6 linked regions of the Homo sapiens genome follow. The protein of the gene in region 2 purifies or fractionates together with the protein of the main gene of each other region. This does not show direct contact. Each region holds a gene or a part of one and is shown on either strand. Other genes may lie near its edges.

Region 1 (3,500 bases), on a different chromosome or scaffold from region 2:
GGGTGTGGGGTCATTAAGCCTCTGTGCCTCAGCTCCCATCTCTTTGAACGGCGATGCCATGGTAACTTAGCACGTGCAGAGCCTTGGGAGCCATGCCGGCCACCTGCTCTTGTTATTAGCAGACTACAACTCACGGTACCAGCAAACACTGATGGAGCACCTTTTATACCAGAACAATGTATATGCGTTAAATTTAATCTGCCTAACAACACTATGAGATATGTATAAATATTATATCCTTATAGAGGAAAAAAACAGAGATTTAAATAACTTGTCCAGGATCATCCAAGCTAGCCCGTGGCAGAGCTGGGATTCAGACTCTGAAATTCTGGCTCCAAAGCCGTGATGCTGGTCTTGGCCATGGTAGCTTCCTGTTCATATGCACTCTACTACTCCTTCTCACATGAGCAGCCGGGGGTAGGGAGAGGGCAGGCAGGGATCTTCCCACACACTGACAGGGTCCGGACAAACCCCATGGGCGTGGTACCCCCAGCCGTGTTGCTGTGTCCGGCCTACCAGAGTGAGGCGTGGCAGTATGGGGCCTGGCCTTTGCTCGCTCTTGGTGTCCAGTCTGCCATGCTCCCCTGTCAGAAGGTCTAGGCTGCTGTTGATGTCTGCAATGTAGTGTTTTGGGTATCCAAGATTGATATATGCAGTTGCAAGAGAATATCTGTCTGTGGTCAGGTTCCCTAGAAGCAGCATCTAAGGTAAAAATTCTTGTGCAAGTGATTTATTGAGGGAATGTTCCAGAAAATCATGCGAGGCAGTAAGGGCAGAGGAAAGCAAAGCAAAAGTAAAGGTTCAGGAGAAGTCTAGCCTGGGGCTGCTCCCAGGGTGGGTTTTGGAGTATTAACTGCACCCTCCAATTATACCTGCCTGTCCCCACCTCTGTCAGCCTTTGGTTTCAGTGGCCCCTGGGGTGGGGTGGAGGACCCACCAGGCATAATCCCTCGGCCTCTTTGTGTACAGGAGCTCTTATCCATCCACAGCAAGCAAGGATGGGACAGTGCAGGCCGTTATCATCCAGCCCTTGCTGCAGCTGGAGGACAGGGCACCAGCCACAGGGGTCTGAGCAGGGCACCCACAGCATCTGTCCAGAGACCTGCAAAGACAGGAATGCAAAGAAGGCAATTAAGTGTCTTAAGAGGAAGCTGGGGTTATCAGCTCTCTCACAAGAGCTTTGTCCACTGTCCAGAGGTGGTCAGGGTGGGAGGGGAGTGAGGAGAGACCAGCTGAGCACACACACCCTGCTCCCCACAGATCAACCCAGAAGACCCTGGGTTGAAGCATCTCTCAGCCACGCCCTGTGGAGTCTGGCTGGGCTTTAGCTTGCAGAAAGCTCCAGAACATCTTTGAAAGGCAATGGGGCGAGGGTCAGGCCGAGAGGCAAGTTCCAGTTCTGGCAGAGCATGCATACAGAGTACCATTCTTACACAGCCACTCTTAACGCACAGTGACATGCACCCACCCATGAGCTTATCCATAACTCTTTTTGTACATGTGTTTTTTTTCCTGGCCCCTAACAAAAGCATTTGTTGAAAAACTATTGATAAACAAGCAGGCCCCAAACAATTCAAACATCTTATTAAATACAGTAAATCTGAGGCAGACACTAGAGTAGCCCAGAGTCATGAGCTACAATGGGGGCAGTTCATGTCTGGCAGCCAGAATCCCCTTGAACTGATGGCTGGACGCAGGCTCTACCTGGGACCAGCTTGAAGTGCTATCCTGAAGCTGCAGACTGCAGGGCCGGCCAGACCCTTTTTCAGCCTCTCCTCTTCCCACCTCTGTATCCCACACAGGCATCTGGTGATGTTCTCCAGGTGTTTCTGTGGCAGTTCTGGGAGCTACTGGGTGATTGCAAGATTAGTTTTTTTTTCTAAGTTGACTTTCTATGTGGTGCCTGAATGACGTTTTCTTTTTTTGTTCAGTAGGAATCCTTTTTTATAGAAGTAATAAAGTCATTACACTTAAAAACAAAGTGAAAGTGTGGTGGGAGTGGGTGATGGAAAATCGAGCAGCTGGTAGGGGACACAAGCTCTGCAATTCCCTCTGTGTCCCTGGAATAGTGGCCTCCCCACTCTGAACTCATCACTAATCTGAGACTCCCTGCTTCTTCCTCATCTGAAGGTTGGAGACAAGGCTGGAGCGCCCAGCACAGCACCCCTTGTGGGACACCTTCATCACTGCCTCAGGTCCGACCACAGGAACTGTGAAATCCTTCCTTTTGGCCGGGCGCAGTGGCTCATGCCTGTAATCCCAGCACTTTGGGAGGCCAAGGTGGATGGATCATGAGGTCAGGAGTTCGAGACCAGCCTGACCAATGTGGTGAAACCCCGTCTCTACTAAAAATACAAACAAAAATTAGTCGGGCATGGTGGTGCGCGCCTGTAATCCCAGCTATTCAGGAGGGCTGAGGCAGGAGAATCGCTTCAACCCGGGAGGCGGAGGTTGTAGTGAGCCGAGATCGCACCACTGCACTCCAGCCTGGGCAACAGAGCAAGACTCTGTCTCAAAAAAAGAAAAGAAAAGAAAAGAAATCCTTCCTTTTGCAGCTGCTGGTGAAGAATATTCAGCTGGAGGATGGCAAAATGATCCTGGCCTCGAACTTCTTTAAGGGGGCAGCCAGCAGTGTCCTTGAGCTGACAGAGGCAGAGCTGGTTACTGCGGAGGCTGTGCGGGTAAGAGGCAACTTCAGGGCTGCCATCCAGTTGGGCAGGTTGTGCCGTGCACATGTGTTCTGCAAATCACACTCCCCAGAGTTGGGCAGCGCCAGCCCTCTGTGGGTGTCTGTTTTGGCTCCAGGTGCAGTGTTGGTTCTATCTCGTCTTGGAGCTTTCTGTTGTCTTCTTGCTGCTCCTTCCTCTGCAACTGGGGCCCTGGGATCTGGCCAGTTCAGTCTGACTCTTCTAGGGGCTCATTGTCAACACTTAATAAGTGAAACAGAAGCTCCTGGAATATTTGAAAGAGTCAGGTGTCAAGCCCATGTCCCTGTGATTAGAATGTGAGCACTGGAGCCTTCCAGAAAGGCTGCACCAGAGGCAGCATCCCGGGCTGTGACCAACACAAGCTGCCCATAAGGCACACCTGGTCTCCAATCCAGCTTTGCCCCAATATGATGCTGTAGGGAGCTTTCGTCTCTAAGACTCAGTCTTCTCAACATGAATTTCCATCCATGCTCACTTCCTGGAATTTGTTCCTGACCCTTCATGCTCCCTCCCACTGTATCCTTCTTCCCTGGGTGGAGAGAAGAGATCTGGGGGAAGACCTTCAAGAGAGAAGGAACAGCAAATGGCAAGGCCCTAACAGGGCAGAGGCCTCCCTGTGTTCAGGGAGTCACCATGGGAGGGCACTGTAGCTGGAGCCCAGGGGGTGAGGGGCAGAGTCAGGTGGGCACAGCTGGGGACCTTGGGTGTTAACAGCACATGTGCGGCAAGGCTCAGCAAGGATGGACATGAGGCATTTGTGTGATCCAAAGGTGCTGAGAGCCAGCAACTTCC
Region 2 (3,500 bases):
GCAAATTACTTTATCTCTCTGAGCCTTGTTTTCCTTATTTTTATTTATTTATTTATTTTTTTGAGTCTCGCTCTGTCACCCAGGCTGGAGGGCAGTGGCACAATCTTGGCTCACTGCAACCTCCACCTCCTGGCAATTCTCCTGCCTCAGCCTCCTGAGTAGCTGGGACTACAGGCGCACGCCACCAGGCCTGGCTATTTTTTGTATTTTTAGTATAGGCGGGATTTCATCATATTGGCCAGGCTGGTCTCAAACTCCTGACCTCAAGTGATCCGCTGGCCTTGGCCTCCCAAAGTGTTGGGATTACAGGCATGAGCCACCACGCCCGGCCCTTGTTTTCCTTATCTATATCTGCAGTAATAACAGTATTTACCTCCAAGATTGCAAGGATGAAAGGATAATATATGTAAAAGACACCCTAGGTGCCGGCACCTGGTGGATACTCTATGATCACCTTCAGCTTCACACAGCAGGCTAAGGCCATTCTTTGGGAACAGGAAGACCAGGCTGTTCCCACTGTGTATGGGTGCTGCTGAGTACTCAGAGGCAGTGGGCAGTTAAGAGGAGAAGAGTTCTGGGATCAGAAAAGTGCCCAGGACTGGCCTTTTATTCATATGTTCAAGAGGTGTTCATTCATCCAGGCCCTGGATCAGGCTACTGGAGGTAAAAGAATAAGTGAAACAGAGCCAGTCCTGCCCTTGTGTAGCAGACAGGCTGTCTGGATACTGTCCATAAAAATAAAATGTGATCGGCTGGGCACGGTGGCTCACAACTGTAATCCCAGCTCTCTGGGAGGCCCAGGCGGGTGGATCACGAAGTCAGGAGTTTGAGACCAGCCTGACCAACATGGTGAAACCCTGTCTCTACTAAAAAAAAAAAAAAAAATTAGCCGGGTGTAGTGGCACGTGCCTGTAATCCTAGCTACTCAGGAAGCTGAGGCAGAAGAATTGCTTGAATCCGGGAGGAGGAGATTGCAGTAAGCCGAGATTGCACCACGGCACTCCAACCTGGGCGACAGAGTGAGACTCCATCTCAAAAAATAAAAATAAAAATAAATAAATAAAATGTGAGCACGTAGGTAATTTTTAATTTTCTGCCAGCTACTTTAATAGCAAAAAGAAATTAATTTTTTTGCTATTAAAATTAAGGTGGAATTTTTTTGTTTGTTTTTTTGAGATAGAGTCTCACTCTGTTGCCCAGGCTGGAGTGCAATGGTGCCATCTCAGCTCACTGCAACCTCTGCCTTCTGGGATCAAGCAATTCTCTTGTCTCAGCCTCCCAAGTAGCTGGGATTACAGGCACCCGCCACCATGCCTGGCTAATTTTTGACCATATTGGTCAGGCTGGCCTTGAGCTCCTCAGGTGATCCGCCCGCCTCGGCCTCCCAAAGTGCTGGGATTGTAACCATGAGTCACCGTGCCTGGCTAGAATTGATTTTAAATATGCATCTTGTTTAGCCCAATATATCCAAAGTATTATTTCAACAAGTAATCAATTTTCTTTTTTTTTTTTTTTTTGAGACGAAGTCTCACTCTGTAGCCCAGGCTGGAGTGCAGTGGCGCGATCTCGGCTCGCTGCAAGCTCCGCCTCCCGGGCTTACGCCATTCTCCTGCCTCAGCCTCCCGAGTAGCTGGGACTACAGGCGCCCGCCGCCACGCCCGGAGAATTTTTTGTATTTTTAGTAGAGACGGAGTTTCACCGTGTTAGCCAGGATGGTCTTGATCTCCTGACCTCATGATCCACCTGCCTCAGCCTCCCAAAGTGCTAGGATTACAGGCGTGAGCCACCGCGCCCGGCCAGTATTTTTAAATCATTGAGAGTTTTACATTTTTTTCATACTAAGCATTTGAAGTCTCGTGTGTATTTTATATGATCAGCACATCTCGCTTGGACAACTTTCTTGGCCACATGTGGCAAGCGGCTGCCATACTGGACAGTGTAGGTCTAGGAGACATTAATACTCACATCCACTAAACATCAAGGTACAGTTATTTTGAGTGCCACTAAGAGGTGAATGATGTTTCCAGAGACCATAACATGAACCCACTTGGTCTGTAGGTTAGGGGTGGCCTCTCTGTGGTGGGGGGAAGGGATGGGGGACAGGGGACACTTAACCCAGGTCATGAAGGATAAGTAGGAGTTACCACAGTGAAGATGGAGGTAGTGGGAGAGAACACCCCAAGCTGGGAGCAAGTTATGCTAGGATCAGGGTCTTTGGGGCTTCATTATTTATTTTTAGAGACAATGTCTTGCTTGAGTGCAGTGGTATAGTCATAGCTCCCTGTAACCTCAAACTCCTGGGCTCAAGCATCCTCCTGTCCCAAGCCTCCTGAGTAGCTGGGACTATAGGCACACACCACCACACCTGACTAATTTTTGTATTTTTTTTGTTCTGGGTTTTTTTTTTCTTTGAGACAGAGTCTCTGTCACCCAGGCAGGAGTGCAGTGGTGCAATCTTGGCTCACTGCAACCTCCGCCTCCTGGGTTCAAGTGATTCTCCTGTCTCAGCCTCCCGAGTAGCTGGGACTACAGGTGTGCACCACCACACCCGGCTAATTTTTGTATTTTTTAGTAGAGACAGGGTTTCACCGTATTGGTCAGGCTGGTGTTGAACTCCTGATCTCAGGTGATCCGCCCACCTTAGCCTCCCAAAGTGCTGGGATTTACAGGCATGAGCCTCGGCCCCTGGCCAGTCGCCAGAGTTTTCTAGTAGGTATGAGTTAGGTGAGAGTTGTGACGGTGTCAGAGACAGACTGGCAAATCGGGCCCTGGGAACCATCAGGAAGGGTTCTAGGGGAGGCTCATGGTTGTCAGAGGGTCTCCCCAGACACCCGAGCACCCACCCGCTTCGTGGATGATGAGGAGCTAGCGTATGTGATTCAGCGGTACCGGGAGGTGCACGACATGCTTCACACCCTGCTGGGGATGCCCACCAACATCCTGGGTGAGTGCCCCCAACCCTGATGGCCTGTCTCCCTGGGGTGGCTTCAGGGCCAGGGCAGGGCTTGCCTATCTCCACCACCCTCTGCATCACCTGGCTTGGTGCCTCAATTTCTGCTTTACCTGAACATCTTAGTAGCATCTTTGCCACATGTCCCCCTTCTTTCTCCCACTGCCCCTCAGGGCTCCTGCACTAATGGAGCAGCAGAGCCCATCTTCAAGGCTCCTGGTGTCTTTTTAGGCTTTAGCTGCCTCCCTGCTCTGAAACCTCAGTAGCTCCCTAAGGCCTGCAGGAACCATCCTGGAGTGTTTAGCCTGGCTTATGGGGTCATGGGGTCCTCTGCGCCCTGACCCCAGGCTTCCTTTCCATCCCCTACTCCCTTCTGTTCACTCTTGGGCTCTCTCCTGTACTCCAAGCCAAGTGCCCCAGGGCCCAGCACAGGCCAGGACTGGGCACAGCTGACCCCGTAGAGATTAGGGAGGAACAGTGCCTCTCTTTACCCTGCTGTGAGCACCACTGGCCTTTCCTTCAGATAGCTTGTTCACCTCCCAACACATCC
Region 3 (3,500 bases), on a different chromosome or scaffold from region 2:
AACTCAGGTCTGAGAGTGCTGTGGGGGTTCTGAGTGTTATAAGAACTAGCAGGAAATATTATATACAGTGATTTCTTTAAGAAAGACACTATAAGAGATTTATATAAGAAATTATAAGAATAAATAAATATAAGGAAATCATAAGGAATTTATGTAAGAGATTATGGGTAATTTATACTTTTTTTTTTTTTTTTTTAATTGAGACTGAGTCTCACTCTGCCACCCAGGCTGGAGTGCAGTGGCAGGATCTCTGCTCACTGCAAGCTCCGCCTCCCAGGTTGACGCCATTCTCCTGCCTCAGCCTCCCCAGTAGCTGGGACTACAGGCACCCGCCACCACGCCCGGCTAATTTTTTGTATTTTTAGTAGAGACGGGGTTTCACCGTGTTAGCCAGGATGGTCTCGATCTCCTGACCTCGTGATCCGCCTGCCTCGGCCTCCCAAAGTGCTGGGATTACAGGCGTGAGCCACCACGCCCGGCCTAATTTATACTTTTCATATTTTCCAACATAAGCGAGGATTAAGTTTTTTAAAAAATCACAAAATTGAAGAAAGTCCATTTCATAAAGAAGAAGGGGCCAGGCTGGGTGTGGTGGCTGACGTCTGTAATCCCAACACTTTGGGAGGCCGAGGCGGGCAGATCACCTGAGGTCAGGAGTTCAAGACTAGCCTGGTCAACATGGTGAAACCCCGTCTCTACTAATAATACAAAAATTAGCCAGGTGTGGTGGCAGGTGCCTGTAATCCCAGCTACTCGGCAGGACAACAGCTTGAACCCGGGAGGCAGAGGTTGCAGTGAGCTGAGATTGTGCCACTGCGCTCCAACACGGGTGACAGAGCAAGACTCTGTCTCAAAAAAAAAAAAAAAAAAAAAAGTAAAACAATAAATAAATAAATAAAAGAAGGGGCCAGGCACAGTGGCTCATGCTTGTAGTCCCAGCACTTTGGGAGGTCGAGGTGGAAAGATTGCTTTAGCTCGAGTTTGAGACCAGCCTGGGCAACAAGGAAAGACCCCGCCCCTATAAAAAAATTAAAAAATTAGCCAAGCGAGGTGGCGTGTGACTGTAGTCTCAGCTACTTGAGAGGCTGAGATGGGAGGATCGCTTGAGCCTGGGAGGTTGAGGCTGCAGTGAGCTGTGATAGAAGAAGAGGGCATGGCAATGGCAGTGAGGGAAAGGGGCAGTAGGTTCTCTGGGGACTTACTCACAGGAGACAGGAGGCTGAACTATTCATACCTGTGGTTATGGATCATGCGGATGTCATAGAGCCTCACGAAGGGCCCGCTGGCCCCAACTGCCAGGCAGTTGTTGTCCTGGGGGTTGACAGTGAGGCACTTGGCCTCCACCAGCTGGCCACAGTACTCTGTCAGGTCAATCAGCACCTCCGAGTGTTTGCTGTTCTCTCGAAGGTCATACTGGCTGTGAGAGAGGACAGAGTTAGGGAATTGGGGCTTGGGGTCCTTGAGAGGAAGGCAGGGGAAAAGATAAGTTCTTGTTATGCAAGAGGATTGGGAGGGACTTTGGACCTGTTTCTAAATAAGAATGTCAAAAACAACTCCCATTTCTTGAGTGTCCACAGTGTGCCAGGTACCTGTAGTAGGCTTCTCACACATTCTATTCTACTAGAACTCCTAAGGTGGATACTATTGTACATATTCTACAGATGTTAGTATTATTGCTACTATTATACTACTACTGATTACCAACACTTAGTGAAAATGTGCTTTATGTCCAGTATTGCCCCTTAATTAATTCCTAACGCCATCCCTAGGTATCATTAGAATACTGAAGTTCAAAGATGTTGAATAACCTGACTGAGATGACACTGCTAGTAAGTGCAGAGCTGGGGAAGCTTTCTGAGACTGCATCTTAAACACTGCTCCGTTCCTACCTAATCTAGTTTCTTTCATGAAACAAGGTATGGAGGTGACAGAAAAGAGACTCTGCAGATCATCTAAGAGCTATCTAGATATACCATGGGCCAAGGCAAGCCTAAAAGTCTCATCCACGCAGTAAAGGTAATGCCAAAAAGTCTACCAAACAGCAGCAAACTCCCACCGCTCCAGACGGGGAAACTTTGTGCTGCCAATACACAGGTATCCTCAGAGAGTGGTGGGTAGGGGGGACATCACCTATATGCTCTCCCCTCTTGCCTAGACATCTGTTATCACCTCTTTGCTGTTCACCTTGTCTTTCTAAGCCATCTTCACCAGGCTGCTCTTCCTAAAATATTATTTTACATCACTCTCCTGCTCAAAAAAATTGCAGAGATTCCTCAATACTTTTAGCACAAGTTTACTTTTACCAAACTCCTCAGTCTGGTTTTCAAGACTCAATTTCACATTTCTCTCCAACCTTATTCCTCAGTTTTCTAAATGTGGGTCAATTATAACTACAGAATTCTTTATCCTGCACATGCCATGTTTATTTCTGCCTTTGCAAACTCTGCTCAAGCTGGGGAATACACTCTGCTTTTCCTTGCTCATCCAAATCCTGTCTGTTCTGGAAGGCCCAGCTTATGTTCACCTTCTGCTAGGACACCTTCTCTGACTGTGCCTATGCCTAAACACTTAGGATCCTACCCAATGCGCTAGACGCTCCGCTTCTACCAGCTGGCCCTGGCAAAATCTGGTCAGCCAAGGTCAAAAAGTGCTACACAGAGTTGGACCTGCCACTGACAAAGTGCATTCTGTCTTCTGAGGTTCAGGGATGCAGTGACTTACCCCAGTCAAATACTGAGTGCGATTGCTAGGATTTGACCCCAGGTCTGTCTGACTTCACTGCCTTGCTCTTGACTATGTTATAATTTATATATGACTTAGATATTCCTCATCTGTAAAAGGAAAGAGGGCACAAAGTCCTACAGGAACTCAAGGGAGACAGATTAAAGCAGGCTGGGGAGATAAGAAAGAAGTTCTAAGGTCACAGCTGAAGAAAGGAGTTAAAGAAGGGCAACGACACCATTTTAGAATGAAGGGAAGTAGAGGCAAATGTGTAACAATGCAGGGCACTGGAAAAGGGGACAGTCCATTTTACCATTTCCGGGTGGCTTGCCCCCTCCCAGGTATATAGCCACTGACCAACTGTTCAAGAGAAATGTATCAAGCGGCTCTATGTGCCAGGCGCTGTGCTGGGCTCTAGGGATACAACCAAGAACAAGACAGACATGGAGTTGCTCTAAGAGAGTTTACTTTTACTATTTAGTGAGGATACAGACAAAAAAGTAAACCAATAAGTAAAAATAAAATAAGGCCAGGTGTGGTAGCTCACACCAGCAATCATAGCACTGTGGGAGGCCGAGGTGGGAGGATCACTTGAGCCCAGGAGTTTGAGACCTGCCTGGGCAACACAGAGAAACCCCATCTCTACAAAAAAAATAGAAAAATTAGCCAAGCATGGTGGAGCGTGTCTGTAGTCCCAGGTATTCAGGAGGCTGAGGTGGGAGAATCGCCTGAGCCCAGGAAGTCAAGGCTGCAGTGAGCCATGATCACGCCACTGCACT
Region 4 (2,563 bases), on a different chromosome or scaffold from region 2:
TGATTAAGGACCACATGCAGCGATGGGATCAGGCGTCCGCGCTGGCCAGAGTGCTGCTCGCTCATGTGCAGACCCTTACTGCGGTGAGGCCTGCGTGAGCCTGTGCTGTGCCTGGTGTCAGGGGACAGGCTCCGAGTCAGTCACAGTGTGCAGTCCTGCTGTGGGGACAGAGTGCAGCCATTGTTGGGTTAGTACAGTGGCGGGGATGTGCCTGCCGGCGTGATGATCAGGCAGGTCTTGACACAGCACAGACCTGAGCTGTGGGACTGGCCAGGAGAGCCAGGCTGCAGCTCAGGTGTAGGGCGTCTTGCAGTGAATTGCACTTGGAGATCTTCCACCTCTTGTGGAGGGGAGACGGCAGGCGGAGCCGGGGCTAGGCATTCCTGAGACAGGTGGAGGTGACAGCTTTGCTTGGGACAGAACTGCCAGACAGGATTGCCCATGTATCTGCCAGCCCTGGCCCCAGCAGGAGCCAGTTGGATGACTCATGGCTTCCACCTGCAGTTCACTTCACTGAAGAAGGCTGCCGGCCCAGGCCACGTGGTAAATCCCATGAGGTTCTCTCTGCCTGTGTGCCCCACTGCAGGGGAGGGAGGCAGTGAGTTTGCCATCTGCTGTGTGACATTGTGAGGGTGCGCAGAGCAGCTGGGGGTAGCCCTGATGCAGTTACTGCATTAGATGGACACTGTGAAGACGTGCAGCTATGTCATGGGCTCAGCAAGAAGGGCCCCTGGCGTCACACAGGGCACCCAGCCGCATCCTGGGCCTAGGGTCAGGGGCTCCTACAGCTGGAACCTGCACCTTCTGGGGCACAAGGTGCCTTCTTTGTGGCCACCACACCCCATGTCCAGCCCAGGCCTGGACAATGATGAGATGTGCTCAGGTGCTTGGTCAGGGCTGGCTTTGGTGGTTGGAGAATCGTATCTTCCTAGTGAGTTACACCATTGCTGGGCCTGCTCTGGGCTGCCCTCCCAGCATCTGCCTTCATGATGAGGCGTGACATGTGGGCTGTAACTTGTTGCCCAGCCTCATGGAGAAACTGTCTTTCTGTAGGTTGGTTCCTGTATACCTTGGGCCAGAGAGCAAACATAGGTGGCCTGAGAGAGCCCTGGTACGTGGTGGAGAAGGACAGCGTCAAGGGTGACGTGTTTGTGGTGAGTGGGCCGGCCTCTGAGACAGCACTGGGGCTGGTTCTGGCAGGGCCAGCAGTGCTTCCAGACCAGGGCTTGAGAAGGCCTCCAGCAGCCGTGGCTTCCTGGAGGCTGTGACTAACTCTGTTCCTGTCCTTGGTCCCCTGCCTTTCCTGGGACTGGCCATGGTGGCAGGAGAGTTTTAAGGTATTCATTAGGCTGAGTTGTATGCTGGTCTCTTAATCATCCCTGAACCCCGATACACAGATACAGTTTCTCCAATTTTATGAAAGAGGACAGCGACGCCCAGAGCTTGGGTGGCTCATCCGGTGGAGAGGGCATGGCCTCAGTGCCAAGGATGGTGCCCACCATGGTAGGATCCAGTGAGTTGTTGTCAGGCAGGTGCAGATGGCCAAGCCAGGATCAAACCAAGCCTTCCACCACAGTGGGGACCTTACCACTGTGACCCTGGCCTCAAAGCAGGGCCGCTCAGTGGCGGCAAGCTCACCCCACCTTCAGGGGACCTTGCCAGTGTCTAGAGGCATTTTTGGTTGTCACAGCTTGGGTGGAAAAGCAAGGACGCGGGTGCTGCTGCATCTGTGGGTCAGGCCGGGGATGCTGCTTGCCGTGTTCAGCACAGCCTCTTCCCTGAGTGACCCGGCCTCCACCTTGGCGCGTGGAGCTGAGAAGGCCCACTCTCAGCACCCTGGCTGCCGGCTCATGTTCTGGCACGAATGCTGGGGCGCCTTCTCTTAGACGGAGGCGGGGGCCAGCAGGCCCCACCCACCGATTCCAGGACATCTCCTTACTAGGAAGACCTGTGGGGAGAAAAGCCTGGCTGCGAATGAATTAAATGATCTAGATTTCAGTTTGCTGTGAGAAGACCAGAAGGGTTAACCAACGGCCTCCTGTCCCTGGACGGGTCTTGGTGCCTGCTTAGAACCCAAAGCCCTTAACTTCATGCTCCTCGTCCTGCTTCAGGGGCGGGGCTTGGCACAATCCCAGGAGGTGCCAGGTCTCAATGGCCCGAGGCCATGGGTGGGTGACAGGGAGCAGGGGCCTCAGAACCAACCTAGGGTATCTGGGGCCCCCCAGACCAGGGCCAGTCCTGGGGCACCTGTGGGAAGCCAGCAGCTACCAGTCCCTCCTTTCTCCTCAGCCATTTGGTGTGTGGAGGAATTCCTGGGGTGGCCTTGAGAGAAGAGCCCGTGGTGTGGCTGGCCCCTGTCCCTGCGAATAGAAAAACCAGTCCTCGAGGGGGGCCGTGCTGCTGCCCCACAGGTGGTTGCAGGTAGAGGGCCTGAGTCAGACTTGAACCTGCAGCATTCACTGTCATGGGCTCGGATCTCACCCCTGCCTCTTGCCCACTCTGACATGGTACTTCCTTCCTGGGCCTTAGTCTCCTCATCTGTAAAATGGGGATTCAAAGGCCC
Region 5 (4,300 bases), on a different chromosome or scaffold from region 2:
AATCTCTTTAACAGGCTTTACAATAATGAAGAAGCAATGTTTTCTCATTTATTTAATAAATAGTTATGTGTCATTTAACACACGCCAAATATTGTTCTAAGCCTTTTACAAAATGTTAATTTAATTTTCTCATGGTTATTTCTTTTAATAATACTACATAAAATCTGGCACAGTCCTGAGTGAGTGCTAGCATACCAGGTGGACTGCTGACTGAGGGATGACCTATGCTTTGCAGGCTAAGCATTAGAAAGGATAACAGGATCAACTGGGAGCTTACCTCCCAGGATAAGAGAAATGTTTGTCACATAAAGGCAAAATGAAAGGAGCCAAAGAGGGAAAGCTACATTTGGAAACCAGATCATTAAGGAAATAGAAACTTTAACCAAATTAAAAAACTTTCTTCACAACCTTGAGGCCCTTGCTAAAAGGTGATTTTTTATTAAAAAGGCAATGAAACCAGAAACTTCTGGACAAGTGAATCACAGAAGAAGCTCAATTTCCTGTTTGACAAAAGAGGAAAAAAAAGAGAGGCACTAGAGCCACTGCAGAGACACAGACCTGAAGACATAATTTTACTAGAATGCAGTTCCCATCTTGTAGCCTTTAAGATGAACTTTTAAACGGTTGTGACTGCATTTTGCAATTCTGTACCTTGGGCACTTGCATGTAAACTCGTTACTTCCTTGGTAAACCGGATGATGTTAAAGTAAAAGTGAGTCCCAGATGAGATTAAATTATCATTCTAGTCCCTAAAACATGAGAGAAGTACAAATTTAACAGAAGTATAGCTTTTTAGAACTTGAAAGGATTTAAGTCATCTAACCCAAGATATTAAATAACCTGTCCATGGTCAGGACGCTATTTTGTGGCACAAAACCAACATCACAAAATACCACAAATTTCGCCCATCATCAAGTGATTTTTTTCAAATAATCTTTTTCAGTCTGGGAGAAGAACTTTAGAAAAGTTTCTGGAAGGTCCCAACTTCAATTACAGGAAAACATCAAGCAGGCGTGAGATTGAAATTATAACAATGTTCTCACTTTCAGTTTGACTTAAGGAACTCTAGAGCTGGAAATAGCAGCAGAAATAAAAGGGAAGCAAAACAGGTTAGAGTGTCAGCGTACAAAGCCAGAAAAAGAGTAAGGTATAATGAAAGCAGATCCGTAAATTTTTACCCATTTTGGGAAAACAAAGTGGTCCATTTGTATTACACAAGACAAAAATATATAGGAGACTGCTTTGCATATTGTTTAAGAAAAACCAGTTTTGCTTTAAGACTAAACTACTGTGCCGTACACATACAGGATGAGTCAACATCCTATCACAATGAAGTCACAAAACCTACTCAACTCAGATTTTTCACTGAGTTAGTGTATTACGTCACATTTCATCTTGGCTATTTAACTTTTATTTCTAAAAATCTCCCCATCTCACGGAAGACCTGACAAGCCAAAGCTGGTCCCTTATGCAAACAGGTGGTCTATACTGCGTGCCCCATCTTCTCGGCCACATGACCGGATTCCTCCTAATCTCACTTCTGAAACATTGTTTCCGGTGCCCCAGATGGCTCTACACGTGCCTGAGGTAGCCACTCCCGAAATATAAAGAGCTCTCTGTCACATCTGGCTTCCAACCGGATGATGGCAGAAACCAAGGGAGGGCAGGCAGAGCGGAAACGAGCCAGGAAAAGCGACAAGTCAGGAAGGTAAAGGCTCTGCTGAACGCCCAACTCCTAAATGTCACTCGGTGGAGATGTTCGTGCAGCATCGCCCACGAATGGCTGGGGCGGGCGGCCAGGCGCTGCAGCCGCAAGCCAGGGAGCTGAGCACGCAGCGCGGGCAGGGGAGCGGCCTCTCTGGCGCTGGGGACGCCAGGCGAGCCCATCAGGCCCCACCGCGGCCCCACCAGGGCGACCCCCGCCGGGGGCGGAGAAGGGAAGTGGGTGCCTGGCGGAGGGTTGCGGGCGGGGAAGGCGCGGGCGGGGCCGGGCCTAATCACATGGCGCAGACGGCGCAGGCCGCCCGGCACCTCTTTCTTTCTCTTTTCTAGACCCTCGGCTCCTATCCCGCCCCACCGCAGGGCCCCACACAGCCTGAGCCCGGGCCCCGAAAGGAACGAGGCCTCCTGCGCCTCGCGGAGACACTCACTTTTCACCTGAGGCCACCAGCTCTTTGCCCTCGCTGTTGCCAAACGCGTCCGTCTCCCCGGGGCCGTCCTTGGGGCCGGGCGCCGCCGGGGCAGCGGGTGGCGACACCCCGGGCTGCGGATGCGTGCTCCCCTTGCCCAGCTCCTGCAAGATCTCCGAAGGAGAGCTGGACAGGCCCCGCGCGAGGGGCTCCGCCGGCCAGCCGCCCCCGCCCCACCACGGGTGGAGTCGCGCGGCGGCAGCCGGGCCCGCGGCCGGCCGTCCCCCGCCTCGGGGACGCCGGCACAGGGTGACCAAGGGCTGTGCCCGCCGCAGAGTCGCGCTCACGCCGGCGGGCGACCGCAGGAGCAGGTCCCGCAGCATCCCCGAGCCTCGCAGCCGCATCATGCCGCCGGGTCCGTCAGCGCCCGCTCAACAGGGGAGGATGCTCCGGGCGTGGGCGGCCGGTTTCCTCGGGGAACGCGGTCTGTGGTGGGGCGGTGAGATGACAGAAGAGGAAAGGGCAGCTACTTGGGTGTGGTTCCGGCTCGGACTCCCGCAGCGGATGCGGGTGCTGCTGCTGCTGCTGCTGCTGCTGCTGCTGCTGCTGCTGCTGCTGCGCGCTAGGATTGCCGCGACCGGTTCTCTTCGCTCCGCCTAAGGCTCCGCACTGAGGCTAAAGCGCAGGGGAGGGCTAGAGACCTTCAGCGCTCGCCGACGGCCCGCCCCTTTCGCCCGCTGCGATTGGCTCAAATCCTCGACCTCTCTTTTGATTGGCGATTAGGGCAGTCAAATTTCTCTCGGCTCTGGGTGCGCGGAGAGTAGGGCGGGGGATTGGTGGGGGGCGGGGAGAGGAGTCAAACTGACGTGTGAAGCGGGTGAGCCAGGCCCGGCTGCTCAGTAGCCACTTTCTGCACGCCGTGCCAACTCCGAGGCTAGCCTAGTTGGGTACTAGGGGCTCTGGGTTCTCGCATTTATGAAGCAGTGGGCTCCTCCACTCTGGGAATTCGAGCTGTTGGGGAGACTCATGGGCGAGATCCCCCGCAGCCGAGGGCAGTGAGGTCAGCAGGTTTGGCAGGGCTGAGTCTGGCCGAGCTGTCGGAACTCAGCCGATCCCAGCTCGCATCTGGCCCCCAGGTCAGGGCGTCTGGCGACTCCTCCGAGAGCAGCCCCGGACAAGCTTCATCCCTCTCCCAAATGTAACATTTGCTTGAAACTTTCCATGATTGGCTACTACCCAGACGTGAAGTGTTTTGGAAAAAATGAGCAAAATCCTTTCAGCTATGCGACTTAAGCCATGGGAGGGTGGAGGTGGAGGGAGGGCGACGAGTGGCGAGGCGGGGTGGGGGGGTTGCGGAATCCAGAATACGACAGCTTTCTTTTTTAAAAATTATTTTTTTTAAATGTACACCGATACTTCAAAAATAGTTTTGAATAGCAATGATTCCGTTAACGCTATTTGCTTGAAAGCAAAACTGTAGATACTTTTCTATTTTAAAAACTGCTTCACTGTTTTAAAATAGAAGCGTTGGAATACGGGTTCTCTAAGTTATTTCAGCATCACTTTATCCATTTATCCTTTTGGACCTGTGGAAAAACAGCCAAGAACCTGATAAACTGAGTTATTCCCTGAGGCTACATACACATTACATTCCAGGACAAAAAAATGTTTTTAGACTATTTCCTGAAACAATTAGGTTTAAATGGAGTAGATCCACAGAGTTTAATAAGATGTTTTGGGGGTTGGTGTGTTGTTACTGTGTTGTTGTGTGTGTTCGTTTTGAGAAAGGGTCTCACTCTGTCGCCCAGGCTGAAGTGCAGTGGCGCGATCACGGCTTACTGCAGCCTTGAACTCAGGGGCCCCGGTGATCCTCCCACCTCAGCCAGCACCTGCTTTTTTTTTTTTTTTTTTTTGTATTTTTGGTAGAGACGGGGTTTCGCCAGGTTGCCCAGGCTGGTTTCGAGGGATCTGCACCCCCTGGGCCTCCCAAATTGCTGGGATTACAGGCGTGAGCCACCACGCCCGGCCTAATGAGGTGATTTTTATGAAACTAGAAGGGTGTATGTCAGGTGCATCATTAATTGATAACCGGATTTAGTAATCTAGTGAACTGTAAAATATTTCAATAGATTAATAATTAGGAAATCTGGCTGTACCTACAGGTTATGTGA
Region 6 (4,208 bases), on a different chromosome or scaffold from region 2:
CAATAAGCATGGAGTGCAGCCACCCACATGAATATTCATAGCTCCTCCTATAGCCTGTTGAATATGTATGTTTAGCCAACCCCTTCAGCATAAAGCTCCTGCCCCAACCCCTCCTGCTTCTAAATGTCTGTCTCTGGTGTTTCCCAGAGGCTGCTCTTCCCAGGCTGCGGGATGGCTACCTTGCTGCCTGTCACCCTTAACAAGAAATAAAATCTCCTTTCCAAATTTATACATTGTGGCCAGGCGCGGTGGCTCACACCTGTAATCCCGGCACTTTGGTACGCCAAGGCGGGCGGATCTCCTCAGATCGGGAGTTCGAGATCAGCTGACCAACATGGAGAAACCCTGTCTCTACTAAAAATACAAAAATTAGCCAGGCATAGTGGTGGGCGGCTGTAAGCCTGACCAACATGGAGAAACACTGTCTCTACTAAGAATACAAAAATTAGCCTAGGCGTAGGGGTGGGTGCCTGTAATCGCAGTTACATGGGAGGCTGAGGCAGGAGAATCTTTTGAACCTGGGAGGCAAAGGTTGCGGTGAGCTGAGATTACGCCACTGTACTCCAGCCTGGGTAACAGAGCAAGTCTCCGTCTCAAAACAAACAAACAAACAAAAAAACACAAAAAAACAAAAGCAAACAAAAAAACCAAATGCATCCCTTGTGTAATTTTTAGGTCACCGCGCCATGGGAACACGCTACCAGGGGAAGGGAGCTGTGAGACGCGCAGGGAGGCTCCAGACAGGCTGGCCTGGGACACCAGCCACTGCTCTTCCATGACATGGGGACAAGAGGAGGCGAGAGCTCAGCCCACCAGGGAGGAACTCCGGGCAGGAGATGGGGAAGAAGGAGAAGCAGGAAGGAAAGAGCTCAGTGTGGGGGCGCGCATGGCATCCCGGTGGGACATCTGAGGCCCACACCCACCTGCTGTCCCTCCCTCCCACGGTGGCCTCCGAGGGTGAAGGCCTGGGGAGAGGCAGACACCTGGCCCTTTACTCTCCCTCCCTGTCCCCATGGCCGCTGGGTGGGGGCCGTCTCTGGGATGATCCCCGAGGGCAGGATCCGGGAGTCCCTGCGGAGGCATCAGCCTGTCTGTCTTGATGGTGGAGAGGAGGCTCCAGCTGGGCGGGACCACCAGGGGAGGGGCTTGTGCTCTGCTGGCTCAGCCTGGTGTGGACCCACCTCGCGGGCGCTGGCTGCAATGACTTTCTCTTTCCCTTTGCAATTGCCTTGGGTCCTGCCGCACAGAGCGGCCTGTCTTTATCAGAGGTCCCTCTGCCAGGGGGAGGGCCCCAGAGAAAACCAGAAAGAGGGTGAGAGACTGAGGAAGATAAAGCGTCCCAGGGCCTCCTACACCAGCGCCTGAGCAGGAAGGGGGAGGGGCCATGACTACGAGGCCCTGGGAGGTCACTTTAGGGAGGGCTGTCCTGAAACCTGGAGCCTGGAGCAGAAAGTGAAACCCTGGTGCTCCAGACAAAGATCTTAGTCGGGACTAGCCGGCCAAGGATGAAGCCTCACTTCAGGTACCGCTGCCCGCTCTACCCGCTGGGCCCCTCTGCTGCCCCTTCCTGCCTGGTGGCTCTGCTGGGCGTCAGCCCTGGCCTCCCCCTGCCCCAGCCCCAGCCCTGGGCTCCCTCCCCTCTGGCTCCCCTGCCCCCGCCACTCCCAGCCAGGCTCTTTTTCCTGCTCTGTGGTTGCCCCACTGCTGCTTCTGAATAGGCCGCTTCCCCACCTGCCCCAGCCCAGGTGCCCTGCTGAGACTCTCCCCCGCCACCGAAAGTCATGGCAGGGCTGGTGCTCCCGGCCCTGGGAGGGTGCTCCCTCTGTGTTCTTTCCGCCATTCCTGAACTCTGGAACTGGGAGAATTGAACCAAAGGATGATTAGAGCAATGTGGAATTTTGTTCACAGTGCTTTGATGGATTTTCTGTAACATTTACTTTGCTTAAATAGCAAGTCTTAGGAGAGGGTGTGGGGAGGGAATGGTCTCTGAAGCACAAGATAAATCGTATCTTCCAAGGATGTCTCCACTGTGGGCAGAGGAGGATGCAGATGACCCCAAACACACGCTCCTCCTCCACTATCAGCATTCACTGTTTATAAATGACACGAGTAACATGGAATATAGTGGCCGGGTGCGGTGGCTCACACCTGTCATCCCAGCACTTTGGTAGGCTGAGGTGGGTGGATTGCCTGAGGTCGGGAGTTCGAGACCATCCTGATCAACATGGATAAACCCTGTCTCTACTAAAAATACAAAATTAGCCGGGTGTGGTGGCGGGCGCCTATAATCCAGCTACTCCACAGGCTGAGACAGGAGAATCGCTTGAACCCAGGAGGCGGAGGTTGCAGTGAGCCGAGATCGCCCCATCGCACTCCAGCCTGGGCAACAAGAGCCAAATTTCGTCTCAAAAGAAAAAAAAACAAAAACAAAAAACATGGAATATATGGGAAAAAAACTCAATGATCAGGAGAAATGCTATTATTTTAAAATTTAGTAAGAAGAGAGTCTGGTCCCCAATGGCTCCCTCCTGCAAGGCTGGTGACACAGAGACTGGACAGGGCTGGTCTGGTAAGAGGCCCCAGCCCCATCCGTCCCCAGCTCTGTGGCCTGGGCAGGTTACCCCATCTCTCTGCGCCTCTGGCACCTCCTCTGTAAGATGGGAATGGCCCGTGCGGGCCTAGGGCAGCCTCACATGAGCTCACATCCGCGCAGCACTTAGAAGAGTGGCCTGGGCCTCAGAATTCGGTTCTACCATGATTTAACAATAGTAATATACAGAGGTGAAATGTCAGAAGGAACTGGCTGAAAGGTTAAAATCTATTATTTTGGGGTGAATAGTTTTATTCTCTCTCTCTTTTTTTTTTTTTTTTTTGAGATGGAGTTTCGCTCTTGTAGCCCAGGCTGGAGTGCAGTGGCACGATCTCGGCTCACTACAACCTCCGCCTCCCAGGTTCAAGCGATTCTCCTGCCTCAGCCTCCACAGTGGCTGGGATTACAGGCACCCACTACCACGCTTGGCTAATTTTTATATTTTTAGTAGAGACTGGGTTTCACCATGTTGGTGAGACTGGTCTCAAACTCCTGACCTCAAGTGATGGGCCTACCTCGGCCTCCCAAAGTGCTGGGATTACAGGCATGAGCCATAATGTCCAGCCAAGAACTTTGTTCTCTTTTGCATTTTACTAATGCGTTGGAGAATGGGTGGGAGAAATACTGGGAAGGTGGGGAATGTACTCCTGGAACGACCAGAGCTGGACCCTGAGCTGGAAGAGGTCAGCCTGCCCCTGCTGCCCATGCCAGCATCCCCTTTTCTTGCTCTCTCCCCGGTCTTCCTGCCTGGGAAGGAAGCAAAAATTCTCAGGGCTGTGGAGGGGTTGGGGAGGCCCAGAGCCATGCAGGGGGCTGTGTTTAGTGGACATCAGCCCTGAGGGCTCCCGGGAGCGCTCTCTACATTGGCTGGTTTCTCTCTTGTGTCTTCAGAAACACAGTGGAGCGAATGTATCGAGACACATTCTCCTACAACTTTTATAATAGACCCATCCTTTCTCGTCGGAATACCGTCTGGCTGTGCTACGAAGTGAAAACAAAGGGTCCCTCAAGGCCCCGTTTGGACGCAAAGATCTTTCGAGGCCAGGTACCACCCGGACTTCAATCACTTTGCAGGCAGGAGCTAAGCCAGCTGGGAAAGCAAACCACGCACTGATAAGTGAAGTGCCCGGCGGCGGGCTATCCAGTGTGTCCTTCTCTCCCACACTTTCCAAGTCCGTGGCCCTGACCTTCCTGCTGGACCGTCCTGGGATCGGATCGTGGAGGGGGTTTGCCTTTGCACAAAAGGCCTTGTGTTTTTTTTTTTTTTTTTTTGAGACAGAGTTTCACTCTTGTTGCTCAGGCTGGAGTGCAATGACGCGATCTCGGCTCACAGCAACCTCTGCCTCCTGGGTTCAAGCGATGCTGTCGCCTAAGACTCCCGAGTAGCTGGGATTACAGGTGCCCACCACCACGCCCAGCTAATTTTTTTTTTTTTTGTATTTTTAGTAGAGACAGGATTTTACCATATTCACCAGGCTGGTCTCGAACTTCTGACCTCAGGTGATCCACCTGCCTCGGCCTCCCAAAGTGTTGGGATTACAGGTGTGAGCCACAGCGCCGGCCTAATTTTAATATTTAATTAATCCAATGTGGCTAACATATTACTTCAACATTAATT

The links.
Region 1: the proteins of COQ4 (region 2) and ALDH1L1 purify together in Homo sapiens (co-immunoprecipitation; one large-scale study listed by IntAct). This does not show direct contact.
Region 3: the proteins of COQ4 (region 2) and WDTC1 purify together in Homo sapiens (affinity purification with mass spectrometry; one large-scale study listed by BioGRID and IntAct). This does not show direct contact.
Region 4: the proteins of COQ4 (region 2) and TRMU purify together in Homo sapiens (affinity purification with mass spectrometry; one large-scale study listed by BioGRID and IntAct). This does not show direct contact.
Region 5: the proteins of COQ4 (region 2) and GLS purify together in Homo sapiens (affinity purification with mass spectrometry; one large-scale study listed by BioGRID and IntAct). This does not show direct contact.
Region 6: the proteins of COQ4 (region 2) and APOBEC3F purify together in Homo sapiens (affinity purification with mass spectrometry; one large-scale study listed by BioGRID and IntAct). This does not show direct contact.

Annotation. Positions count from the first base shown.
Region 1 is NC_000003.12:126,149,587-126,153,086, reverse strand, and holds part of ALDH1L1 (cytosolic 10-formyltetrahydrofolate dehydrogenase), read left to right. Parts: intron 1-2,555; coding exon 2,556-2,681; intron 2,682-3,500. UniProt on the Homo sapiens protein: Cytosolic 10-formyltetrahydrofolate dehydrogenase that catalyzes the NADP(+)-dependent conversion of 10-formyltetrahydrofolate to tetrahydrofolate and carbon dioxide.
Region 2 is NC_000009.12:128,329,339-128,332,838, forward strand, and holds part of COQ4 (ubiquinone biosynthesis protein COQ4 homolog, mitochondrial isoform 1 precursor), read left to right. Parts: intron 1-2,814; coding exon 2,815-2,944; intron 2,945-3,500. UniProt on the Homo sapiens protein: Lyase that catalyzes the C1-decarboxylation of 4-hydroxy-3-methoxy-5-(all-trans-decaprenyl)benzoic acid into 2-methoxy-6-(all-trans-decaprenyl)phenol during ubiquinone biosynthesis.
Region 3 is NC_000001.11:27,290,132-27,293,631, reverse strand, and holds part of WDTC1 (WD and tetratricopeptide repeats protein 1), read right to left. Parts: intron 1,418-3,500; coding exon 1,235-1,417; intron 1-1,234. UniProt on the Homo sapiens protein: May function as a substrate receptor for CUL4-DDB1 E3 ubiquitin-protein ligase complex.
Region 4 is NC_000022.11:46,352,714-46,355,276, forward strand, and holds part of TRMU (mitochondrial tRNA-specific 2-thiouridylase 1), read left to right. Parts: intron 1-1,053; coding exon 1,054-1,154; intron 1,155-2,563. UniProt on the Homo sapiens protein: Catalyzes the 2-thiolation of uridine at the wobble position (U34) of mitochondrial tRNA(Lys), tRNA(Glu) and tRNA(Gln).
Region 5 is NC_000002.12:190,879,321-190,883,620, reverse strand, and holds the start of GLS (glutaminase kidney isoform, mitochondrial isoform 1 precursor), read right to left. Parts: upstream 2,801-4,300; 5' UTR 2,537-2,800; coding exon 2,151-2,536; exon of another isoform or gene 2,053-2,150; intron 1,709-2,052; exon of another isoform or gene 1,633-1,708; intron 1-1,632. UniProt on the Homo sapiens protein: Catalyzes the first reaction in the primary pathway for the renal catabolism of glutamine. Plays a role in maintaining acid-base homeostasis. Regulates the levels of the neurotransmitter glutamate, the main excitatory neurotransmitter in the brain.
Region 6 is NC_000022.11:39,039,456-39,043,663, forward strand, and holds the start of APOBEC3F (DNA dC->dU-editing enzyme APOBEC-3F), read left to right. Parts: upstream 1-1,408; 5' UTR 1,409-1,505; coding exon 1,506-1,522; intron 1,523-3,481; coding exon 3,482-3,635; intron 3,636-4,208.